Linked DNA regions of Homo sapiens. Changing the gene in region 3 together with the main gene of any one other region gives a genetic interaction. Each region holds a gene or a part of one and is shown on either strand. Other genes may lie near its edges.

Evidence for each region.
Region 1: changes in ABCB7 (region 3) and LTO1 together harm fitness more than expected from each alone (negative genetic interaction), as found in Homo sapiens cells (one large-scale study listed by BioGRID).
Region 2: changes in ABCB7 (region 3) and PITRM1 together harm fitness more than expected from each alone (negative genetic interaction), as found in Homo sapiens cells (one large-scale study listed by BioGRID).

Annotation. Positions count from the first base shown.
Region 1 is NC_000011.10:69,668,828-69,672,478, reverse strand, and holds part of LTO1 (protein LTO1 homolog), read left to right. Parts: intron 1-659; coding exon 660-730; intron 731-3,651. UniProt on the Homo sapiens protein: The complex LTO1:YAE1 functions as a target specific adapter that probably recruits apo-ABCE1 to the cytosolic iron-sulfur protein assembly (CIA) complex machinery. May be required for biogenesis of the large ribosomal subunit and initiation of translation.
Region 2 is NC_000010.11:3,145,156-3,148,806, reverse strand, and holds part of PITRM1 (presequence protease, mitochondrial isoform 2 precursor), read left to right. Parts: intron 1-177; exon of another isoform or gene 178-515; coding exon 516-636; coding exon of another isoform or gene 637-639; exon of another isoform or gene 640-743; coding exon 744-820; exon of another isoform or gene 821-1,069; coding exon 1,070-1,235; exon of another isoform or gene 1,236-1,556; coding exon 1,557-1,657; exon of another isoform or gene 1,658-3,090; coding exon 3,091-3,211; exon of another isoform or gene 3,212-3,651. UniProt on the Homo sapiens protein: Metalloendopeptidase of the mitochondrial matrix that functions in peptide cleavage and degradation rather than in protein processing. Has an ATP-independent activity. Specifically cleaves peptides in the range of 5 to 65 residues.
Region 3 is NC_000023.11:75,146,249-75,149,899, reverse strand, and holds part of ABCB7 (iron-sulfur clusters transporter ABCB7, mitochondrial), read left to right. Parts: intron 1-3,651. UniProt on the Homo sapiens protein: Exports glutathione-coordinated iron-sulfur clusters such as [2Fe-2S]-(GS)4 cluster from the mitochondria to the cytosol in an ATP-dependent manner allowing the assembly of the cytosolic iron-sulfur (Fe/S) cluster-containing proteins and participates in iron homeostasis.

The DNA.
Region 1 (3,651 bases), on a different chromosome or scaffold from region 3:
TTAGTGGCAAAGTCTGAGTTGAGGCAGTTATGACTATATTGGATGTTCGATGCTGTGAAACAGATCACCACAAAATTCATGGGCTTAACACAGCAAATATGGATGATCTCACATGTTTCTGAGGGTTGGGAACTCAGGAGCAGCTTTGCTGGGTGGTCCTGGCTCAGGGTGTCAGCCAGAGCCGTGTCACCTGAAGGCTTGACTGGGCTTGGAGGATCTGCCTCCAAGGTGGTGCTGTCACCTGACTGTGGGCATGGACGTCTCCATGGGGCTGCTTGTGTGTCCTCGTGACATTCAAGAGCGAGTGGTCCAAGAGAGCTGGTGAGGCAAGTGACACTGGCTTTTATCCCTAGACTCAGGAGCTTTGTGCTGTTCCTCCACATTCTGTTGGTTACGAAAGCCACCCTGGTGGAGTGTCGAGGGACCTGCACAGGGCATGGGTACCAGGAGATGAGGACTGGGGCATCTGGGAGGCTGGCTGCCCCACCGATGACCTAATTTCCTAATTTCCATTGCCTAATGCTCAACAGGTGCTTCCAGAACAATAGTGTGAGAAGCACCGCTGCCTTCTGCCCCCACCTTTTGTTTTGAGATCTTGGTAATGAAAGTGTAGCTAGTTGCTTATTAATTTCACTCTTAAATATTTTTCACATTCACAGATCGGGTGCTACCAAGGTTTTGCTTTTGCATGGAAATGTCTACTGCACAGTTGCACCACTGAGAAGGACAGGTAAAGGTGGAGATGTCTTTCTTTCTCAGCGTAGGAACCAGGAGTTCTAGTTCCATGGGTTACCAGCATGCCCTTGAGTAATCAATCTGTCTGTTCCTCATCTGTAAAATGGAGAAAATTATCAGTGTCAAGCTTGAGTGTTGTTAGGAGATTTAACGGAAATACTAAATAGAAAGTGCCAGGCACATTTTAGGTGTTTGGTGAACACTGGCTGTTGTTGCTTCTCAAGAGTTCTATGCTCCTGCCTTTTACCTGGAGTCATTAGTGCACCATGTGGCTTTTAGATACCCTACCAATAAAATAATGTTGACATTGATTGTATTTTCTCATTCACCTTTCCCCTGAGCTTCTAATAAACAAATTATAACAGTTTTGTATCACTTGGGCTCAGAGATGAGGACACCAGTGTCATCAGTTTTTTAATGTAGCCAACTAAGTCTGTTAACAAGAAAATGCCTTTAAATGTGTTTAACTCCTTTCTGGAACTTGTCAACACTCAGTAAGTGTTAGCTGTCATTTGAATTGTTTTTAGCCTTTAAAAACTCTTCTCGGCCGGGCGCAGTGGCTCACTCCTATAATCCCAGCACTTTGGGAGGCCGAGGCGGGCAGATCACGAGATCAAGAGTTCGAGACCAGCCTGGCCAATATGGTGAAACCCTGTCTCTACTAAAAATACAAAAATTAGCCGGGCGTGGTGCCATGTGTCTGTAGTGCCAGCTACTCGGGAGGCTGAGGTTGAAGAATTGCCTGAACCCAGGAGGCAGAGGTTGCAGTGAGCTGAGATAATGCCACTGCGCTCCAGCCTGGGCGACAGAGCAAAACTCCTTCTCAAAAACAAACAAACAAACAAAAACTCTTCTTCCTGCATTGTACTTACTGAAGCCCCATGTGACCCTGCTTTATCTATCTTCATTCTGAAGCTGGAAATGAACCCTTGAGATGGTTTGGATACTCTGCTGTTCATGGGCAGCAGCAAGCGCGGGACCTGAGCTGGTGCTCTGCGTCATTCTGACACCTGGTGGCCTTGCCTAGCGTGGGAGGGGCACAAGGAGAGTGGGTAACTCTCTCCCTGACTACGTGACTTGTGCTTTTATTTGAAATATCTTGAATTTCTAGAAATACCTTGAATATCTTGAATATTCAAATGTTTAAGAATGAGGATGCTTGCAACTGATACGGGTAGTTCTTTCTGCTCCGTTTGTACCAGCAGTTGGGAGTCGATGGGATTCTGGGTTAGCAGAGGGGCACTTGAGGACATTTTCCTCCTGGTTCTCAGGCAGCGGCCGGCAGCTGGGGATCCCAGGGGAATCGCTGTTGGCAGCCTGTGCTACCACTAGGTGGCAGTCAAAGCTGAGCCTGGCTCTCAACTCCAGGCCACAAAAGGATGTGTGTTCTTGGAGTTCTCCGCCTGTCTCCCTTCTCCCACAGCGGCAGAATCTGCCGGCTCCTGGAGAAGTGCTCCGCTGTGTGCCAGTGGTCCCATCCCAGGAGGTTGCCAGCCCTTACCCCAGAGCAGGGGTTTGCTGACGTCTGAAAGCAGCACACTCAGTCTAGCTAACAGAGAAGAACCGCTTTGGTTGACGAGGGGCTGGTGGAAGCCCTGCCAGACCCCCCTCGCAGCCGCCCTCATCCCATCCAGTAGTACCCAGAGGTCTCTTTGGAACCTAAGGCTTTATTGTAGAGCAGTGGTTCATGGATGTTTAGATCTTACATGTCAGGTTTTTTTTTTTGTTTTTTGTTTTTTTTTAAATGGTGAAGGGCTGATATTGCATGTTTTACCTGTAAATTTTTCCAAATAAGGATGTTAAGAGAAAAACACCTGCCACCGCATTGTCATTCAGCAAAATGCTGGGCATTGTAACACCAAAGAAACCACGGAGAGCGGCATCTCAGGCCAAAAGATGGTGCTTTCCGTTGAGTAACTAGCTTTCCGGTAAACTGCGTGACACTTCTGTCCCCGGCTTCAGCAGTCTGGTGAAACCCTCCTGCAGACCAGCGCGCACCGGGGCTGAGCACGGGGGCTCTGGCACCATCACTTTTCTTTCATTAGCCCTGAGCTGCTCACACCTGCCTGACGTGTGCCGCCTCTGATGGTGCGCCCGGCTGGGTGTGTCTGAGCAGCATCGCTGACCAGAAAAGTAACCGCTTGCCAAGTGGAAAGTGCGTGGTCCTCTGCATCGGGTTAGCATACAGCCACCTCCCACGTTTTGGCATCTCCCTTTGGTTTCCCTGGAAACCAGGTGCTTTGTTGCTAAAACTGACTTGCTTTGACCTTTCACAGTTTTGTATTTTCTCAGAGAGGTAGCCATGGTTAGCTCTTGTAAACTGGATGCTGCTGGCAAACTTGCTCTTCTCTGTATCCAGGAGCACCAGCTGTTTGCAAGTACACAGGAGGTCTTGGTTGCTTTGAATTGCTGTTGATTCATCCTAACTGTCAGTTCTTTAAAATGCCCGTTAATCGAGTATCTTGCCTACTCTGGCCACTCACATGGTCCAATGCGGCATAGAGGCAGCATGCTTCTCAGGACCACCTGTGGTTCATTGAAAAGACCTGGCCCCACGAGATGTACACATGTGTGGATTATTTTTAAACCCCTGCAGGTGAGAGCCCTGATCTCTAGGATCCAGAGGAAACCAAGAGACCAAGAGACTAACATTTATTGAGCACCTACTCTGTGCTGGAGTCCAAGCTTCATGTCAATTTTTTTTTTTTTTTTTTTTGAGACGGATTCTCACTCTGTCCCCTAGGCTGGAGTGCAGTGGCACAATCTTAGCTCACTGCAACCTCCACCTCCCAGGTTCCAGCAATTCTCCTGTCTCAGCCTCCCGAGTAGCTGGGACTACAGGCACACACTATCACGCCCATCTAATTTTTGTATTTTTAGTGGAGACAGGGTTTCACCATATTGGTCAGGCTGGTC
Region 2 (3,651 bases), on a different chromosome or scaffold from region 3:
GCTGGCATTAGCAGTGTCACTGTGAATGTTTCTTTCAAAAGCATGAGTGCTGAGAGGAAACTGCTTTTCTTAAAAACTTAAAAAACCTTTAGTCTTCGGACTCCCCCGCCCAGGCTACCAGACATTCGAGCAAAACAAAGGAAGTATGTATCACGGTGATCTGGGTGAAGAGAGTAGGGAGTAGTCATAAAACATTTATTGAAGAGCTTACAACTGGAAATGCCTATTTTAGAATGGTGTTTTAAGTGCAGACACTGGCTGCCCAAGTGTCTTGTGCCTCTGGACGCTAACTTCCTAGGCGGGAGAAACTGGGGTCTCCCTGGGGAAGGGGGCACATGAACTCTCGAGGGCGAAGGCCAGAGTGCACCTGCTTATGACCTTCGAAGTGTAGAGAGGTTGGCAAAGCCGCAGTTATTGAATTAATGGAAGCAACTTGTAACTCAAGATGCACGATTTTAAAAATGATTCAGTAAAGACTGACTTGTAATCGGGGCGATGCTTCTCTGCTGTGTCAGGCTGGGCTGCGGCCTTCTTGACTACCGGGAGCAGGCTCAGCAGATAGAATTGAAGACCGGAGGGATGAGTGCTTCTCCCCACGTGCTCCCCGACGACTCACACATGGACACCTACGAGCAGGTAGCCTGGTACCGTCAGACGACTGCTGCGGTGGGAAGCTTTTCTCCAGTGTCTGTCACTGTTCGATTCGGCCCTAATTCCTTTCTTCTGTGTTTTCTTTGGTTCAGGGTGTGCTTTTCTCCTCTCTCTGCCTGGATCGAAACCTGCCAGACATGATGCAGCTATGGAGTGAAATATTTAACAAGTAACTTTATTTGCAAGAGTTGTCCATTCTTGGGGTGTACTAGAGATCTTTGTTTGAAGTACTTTAAAGGAGACAGTTTTACTCGTGTGTGTTGTTGTTTTCCAAGTCTGACTTTTACTTGTAGTTCATATGGACTTATAAAATTTCTTTGGTTGTTAAAGTACTCTGAAAACTTAATCAACTTTCCATGATACTGAAGGGACGTGAGGAATGGGTCTCCAGGAATTTTTTCTTCTCCTTTTTCCATAGCCCGTGCTTTGAAGAAGAGGAGCACTTCAAGGTGCTGGTGAAGATGACCGCCCAGGAGCTCGCCAATGGAATTCCTGACTCTGGGCACCTGTACGCATCCATCAGGGCAGGCCGGACCCTCACGCCCGCAGGGGACCTGCAGGAGACCTTCAGCGGGATGGATCAGGTGGGAAGCTTGGAAGGAACCTCTATTACTCCGGTTTAGCCACATATTCCAGAGTTACTAATTTCTTTGGGAATACATTAATTTATGTCCCAGAAATGCTAACTTTCTAACTGACTAAATATGGGGAAGAATTGGTTGGTTGGTTTTGACTCATCTTCCTCTTTGTACCACCCTGCATCCCAGTTCCAGCCCTGCCCAAGCCGTGCACTCGCACACATAACCCCTGCCCAAGCAGGGTTCTGATGTCACAGGTGCTTGGTTCAGACTCAGCGGGTCTGTTGTAGCCTCTGCCTCTCTCTGAGCGAGTTTCCTCTGGCTTAGGTGCGGCTGATGAAGAGGATTGCAGAAATGACAGATATCAAACCCATCCTGAGGAAGCTCCCGCGTATCAAGAAACACTTGTTAAATGGTGATAATATGAGGTGCATGTGTGATTTGTTTCTAAATATTTTATGATTCATTCTATTAAGTATAGTTTTTAGGTATTTCTTACTTGTAGAAACTTCAAGATAGAGTGCTTGGTAAAGGTTATAGAATTTATTGTAAATGTCAAGTGTTCTAACAAACTAAGAAAATATTTTAAGCCTATTAAAAGTTGTAGGAGATGGGGAAGAAAGCAGGCTAATTTTGTGCTAGAAGTGCAAATAGATTGAGGGCAAGTAGTTATATTGCTTCCAAAAGCACATGGTCCGTAACTGAGGTATCTGTAAAGGTGAGCTTGCTGAAGACCAGAGTAAAAGTGCAGTTTCTTATAAAATTATGTGATGCTTTGAGGAAACATCTGGCAGCTCAGTCCTATACCTTCAGTTGGCCTTATGCCCTCAGATGTGTGAGCATGAATAAAGTTTAAAAATGATTGTTTATTTTCAGCATCTTATTGTCAGTGACATTGATGTATTCATCAGTACTTAACAAGAAAATGTTTGCTGAAGTCACTTGTCCTTCTTCACACAGAGTCCTGATGCCTTTCCCCAGTCATGTCCTGAGAATCCCTGGCAGATTCTACAGGGCGGTCTGTGGGTGGCCAGAGGTGAAGCCTGGCGATCAGGGTCTCTTGGCATTGGGCTCAGGCAGGCCTGGCTTCTGGTGCCGCCGGGTCAGCACTCACACTCGCTCCCAGGCGGTCCTGGGCAGCTGACCCACTTGCGTCTTCTGCTTCCTCCTCCATAAAACCTTCCTTTGCAGGTTTATCGTAAGGAATAAAAGAAAGAATATCTGCAAGGCAGCATACATGCCTGGGATATAGTTAGTATTAATATAATGGTACCTGCTGTTACTTTAACTAGAATAAGTTCAGGATTTACAGCTGAAAGGAAAAAATATACACTCTGTCAATATACTGTAGAGTTCAAGTAGCTTTTATATGATAGTAGTATTTGCAATTCTGTGGAATTTGGAAGAGTTCTATTTTCATGTAACTTTGAGAGCATGGTATTTTTTTGCAGTTTATAATGTTCTGCTTTAACAACCAGTTCACATTTTCAAATTGATGACTTCTGGACAGTAATTTTAAAAGTTGTCAGTGTTTTGATAGTGTAATTCCGAAGGCACGGTTAGCAGATCTTAATAGTCTCTGTATTTTCTTTGCTCTTCAGAAGAACTAGAGTTTAGAGTCACAGGCTCCGCGTATGGACGGCTTCATTAGCTGCCACATTGAACTGTGCGGAAATCTCTTGATAACCTGAAGCACTGAAGAGCAGGGAGGCGGCCGTGGCATTTCCACATTTGGCTGCTGTTTAACACTCTGAACAGTATTTTCTATAAAAACAACATTATTGAGTTATACAAAATGTGATGAATTACTAAAACTGTTTTTTCTAACAGTGGTTTTATGTATACATAATTTTTCAAACAGGTGTTCAGTGAATGCGACTCCTCAGCAGATGCCTCAGACAGAAAAAGCGGTCGAAGACTTCCTTAGAAGCATCGGTCGGAGTAAAAAGGAACGGAGGCCTGTGCGCCCACACACGGTCGAGGTATGCACTGGTGGTGCTGGCGCCCGGTGAGCGCCTGGTGGGTGCCAGAGCAGCTCTCATGTTTTACACGCATTAACTCAATTCTCAGAGCAGTCCAGCATGTGGGGGTTCATATCCCCCGTACGCAGATGAAGAAACTGAGGTTCAGGAGGATTAAGTATCTTGTGCAGTGTTGGGCCAGTTAAGTGAGTTCAGACCCTGCGGTGTGGCCTTAGATCCCGCGCTCACTTCTGTGCCTTGCAGTGAGTAGTCTGATAGGAAAACAGACTTTGGCTGGAATACGCTGGCAGAGGAATGGCCCAAACCGTAGCCTGAAGGCTGTTCACTGCTGTTTCTTTGACTCATGAATCCATGGATTTGACATGGAACAGTGATGTCGGTGATAACTAACTTAGTAAATTTGATTAACTTAGAGAGTTGTAGTCTAGTTCATGGATGTC
Region 3 (3,651 bases):
TGTGCTTTTTTGTGTCTGTTCTTTTTTTTATGCCACACCCTATGTCTGAAATGCCCTCTCTCTAACTGGTGCCTATTTTTCAAATGTTAGTTCAAAGGTCAGTCCGTTCCCTGAAACCATTCCTTATAAGCTAATAAGACTTTGATTTCTCCCTCCTCTGAACTCCTACAACACTTTTTCCTACAAGTAGTTATGTATCTTGTGGAGGAGATAAGATTTTATGTGCCTAAAATGCTAATATATTCCAATCATCTTTTTGTTTTTATCTTCCACAGAGCTAGGCACGGTATGTTACATGTAATAGGTAATCAGAAAATATATGTAAAATGAATGATTAAACTCTATAACCAAACCAAAGCAAAAATCTAACATAATAATTAATAATATTTGCTCCACTGCTATACATTTGGAATTGAAAGCTAACTTTCTTCAGGGCAACCTCATAAGTTTGTCCGTTGCATTTCTGTCATTAGGCATATGGTACCGTGGTGGAGTAGCATCACTGATTGTTGTCAGTTTTAGTTCAATAACCAAAGCACACTTACTTTTTATCCTAAAATTTTTGAGTTACTTTATTTGTGAGCATCATTTGCTAAGATAAAGTGACTTACAGGATAACATTCTTTGAGGAATAAGATATAAAAATTTGCTGTTTGTAGAAATTTTAACTGCACACTGTATTTTGGGATGTTCATTAGTCCTCTGATTAAGTTTTCTTTACAATATCTAGAGAGGGATGGATATTAAAGTAGGGAAACCGCATCCTAAGGGTATAGTTCCTTAGGTGCTGATGTTTTGGGAGAGCAACTTTTAAACTTCTGCTTTTCAAAGCATATTAGAAAAAGACAAGGTGAAGCTTCGATTTTGGTTTACTTATAAAATTGTTTTTACTGATCTTGAGTAACTTATACTATAATATTGTAATATATTCATATTTTTGAGTGCATGAATGTTTGCTAAGTATGAACTCTTTCTTCAACTACTCTGACTGTAGTGACTTAATAACTGTGCATGTACATGTGTGCTTGCCTGCTACGTTTGCCATAACACCACAGATTGGGTGGCTTATACAACAGAAATGTATTTTCTCACAGTTCTGGAACCCATGAAGTCCAAGATGAAGGTGTCAGTAGAGTTGATTTCTTCTGAGGTCTCTCTCCTTGGCATGTAGATGGCCATCTTATACCTCTGTCTTCACACTGTCTTTTCCACTGTTTGTGTCTGTGTCCTGATATCCTCTTCTTAGAAGTATACTGGTCATATTGGATTAAGGCCCACCTTAATGACCTCATTGAACTTTAATTACCTCTTTAAGGGCCCTGTTTCCAAATATAGTCACATTCTGAAGTATTAGAGGTTAGGACTTCAACATATAAATTTGTGGGGGTGGGGAGTACACAGTTCAGACCATAACAATGTGTGTATGTGTTTGTATGTGTGTGTATGTATATGCAAATACATAGAAAATTGGAAAGATATACTCCAGTCTGGTAAAAGTGGTTACCTCGGGGGTTGGGGGGGGGTTTGGGATGCTAAAAAACAAACAAAAAAAATTTAATTTGCTATTATGGATACACAGACATAGTTTGATATACTGTACTTGTTTTTACAATGAGAAAAATATTTCATGTTTAAGCTTTTCAATTGATGAACTGACCTTTTTGAGTAGGTTATATTATGTTCATTTATTTGAAGTCCAATTTGTTTTGTCTGCTAGTAGTAATGCATTTTATCATCTCTGTAACTTTTATTTTATTTGTTTATTTTTTATTTTTTATTTTTTTGCGATGGAGTTGTGCTCTGTCACCCAGGTTGGAATGCAGTGGCACAATCTTGGCTCACTGCCACCTCTGCCTCCCAGGTTCAAGCGATTCTCCTGCCTCAGCCTCCCAAGTAGCTGGGATTACAGGCGCACACCACCACACCTGGCTAATTTTTGTATTTTTAGTAGAGATAGGGTTTCGCCATGTTGGCCAGGCTAGTCTCGAACTCCTGACCTCAGGTGATCCGCCCACCTCGGCCTTCCAAAGTGCTGGGATTACAGGCCTGAGCCACCACGCCTGGCCTTGTAACTTTTATTTTAAGTTCAGGAGTACATGTGCAGGTTTGTTACATAGGTAAACTTATGTCATGGAGGTTTGTTGTACAAATTATTTTATCACCCAGGTATTAAGCCTAGTAGCCATTAGTTATTTTTTCTGATCCTCTCCCTTCTTCCACCTTCCACCCTCTGATAGGCCCCAGTGTGTGTTGTTTCCTTGTATGTGTCTATGTGTTCTCATCATTTAGCTCCTACTTGTAAGTGAGAACATGTAGTACTTAGTTTTCTGTTCCTGTGTTAATTTGCTAAGGATAATGGCCTCCAGCTCCAGCCATGTCACTGCAAAGGACGTGATTTTGTTCTTTTTTATGGCTGCATAGTATTCCATGATATATTTGTACCACATTTTCTTTATCTAGTCTGTCATTGATAGGCATTTAGGTTGATTCCATGTGTTTGCTATTGTGAATGGTACTGCAATGAACATACGCATGCATGTGTCTTTATAATAGAATGATTTATATTCCTTGGGGTACATACCCAGTAATAGGATTGCTGGGTCAAATGGTAATTCTGTTTTTCATTCTTTGAGGAATTGCCACACTGCTCTCCACAGTAGTTGAACTAATTTACACTCCCACCAACAGTGCATATAAGTGTTCCTTTTTCTTCATAACCTCACCAGCATCTGTTATTTTTTGACTTTTTAATACTAGCCATTCTGACTGGTGTTAGGTGGTGTTTTGTTGTGATTTTGATTTGCATTTCTCTAATGATTAGTGATGTTGAGCATTTTTTTTTTTGTGTGCTTGTTGGCTGCATGTATGTCTTCTTTGGAAAAGTGTTTTTTTCATATACTTTGTCCACTTTATGTTTTTTTTTCTTGTAAATTTGTTTAAGTTCCTTATAGATGCTGGATATTATTAGAGCTTTGTTGGACGCATAATTTGCAAAAATTTTCTCCCATTCTATAGGTTGTCTGCTTACTCTGTTGACAGTTTCTTTTGCTATGCAGAAGTTCTTTAGTTTAATTAGACCTCATTTGTCAATTTTTACTTTTGTTGCAGTTGCTTTTGTTGTTTTTGTCATGAAATCTTTTCCCGTGTCTCTGTCCTGAATGGTATTACTTAGGTTGTCTTCCATGGTTTTTATACTTTTGGATTTTACATGTAAGTCTTTAATCCATCTTGAGTTAATTTTTGTTTATGGTATAAGGAAGGCTCCAGTTTCAATCTTCGGCCTGTGGCTAGCCAGTTATCCCAGCACCATTTATTGAATAAGGACTCCTTTCCCCATTGCTTGTTTTTGTCAGGTTTGTTGAAGATGATATGGTTGTAGGTGTTAGGCCTTATTTCTGGAGTCTCTATTCTGTTCCATTGGTCTGTGTGTCTGTTTTTGTACCAGTACCATGCGGTTTTGGTTACTGTAGCCTTGTAGTATAGTTTGAAATCAGGTAATGTGATACCTCCAGCTTCATTCTTTTTTCTTAGGATTGCCTTGGCTATTTGGATTCTTTTTTGTTTCCATTTGGATTTTAAAATAGTTGTCTCTAGTTCTGTGAACAATGTCAATTACCATTGACATTTAATAGGAGTAGCATTGAATCTATA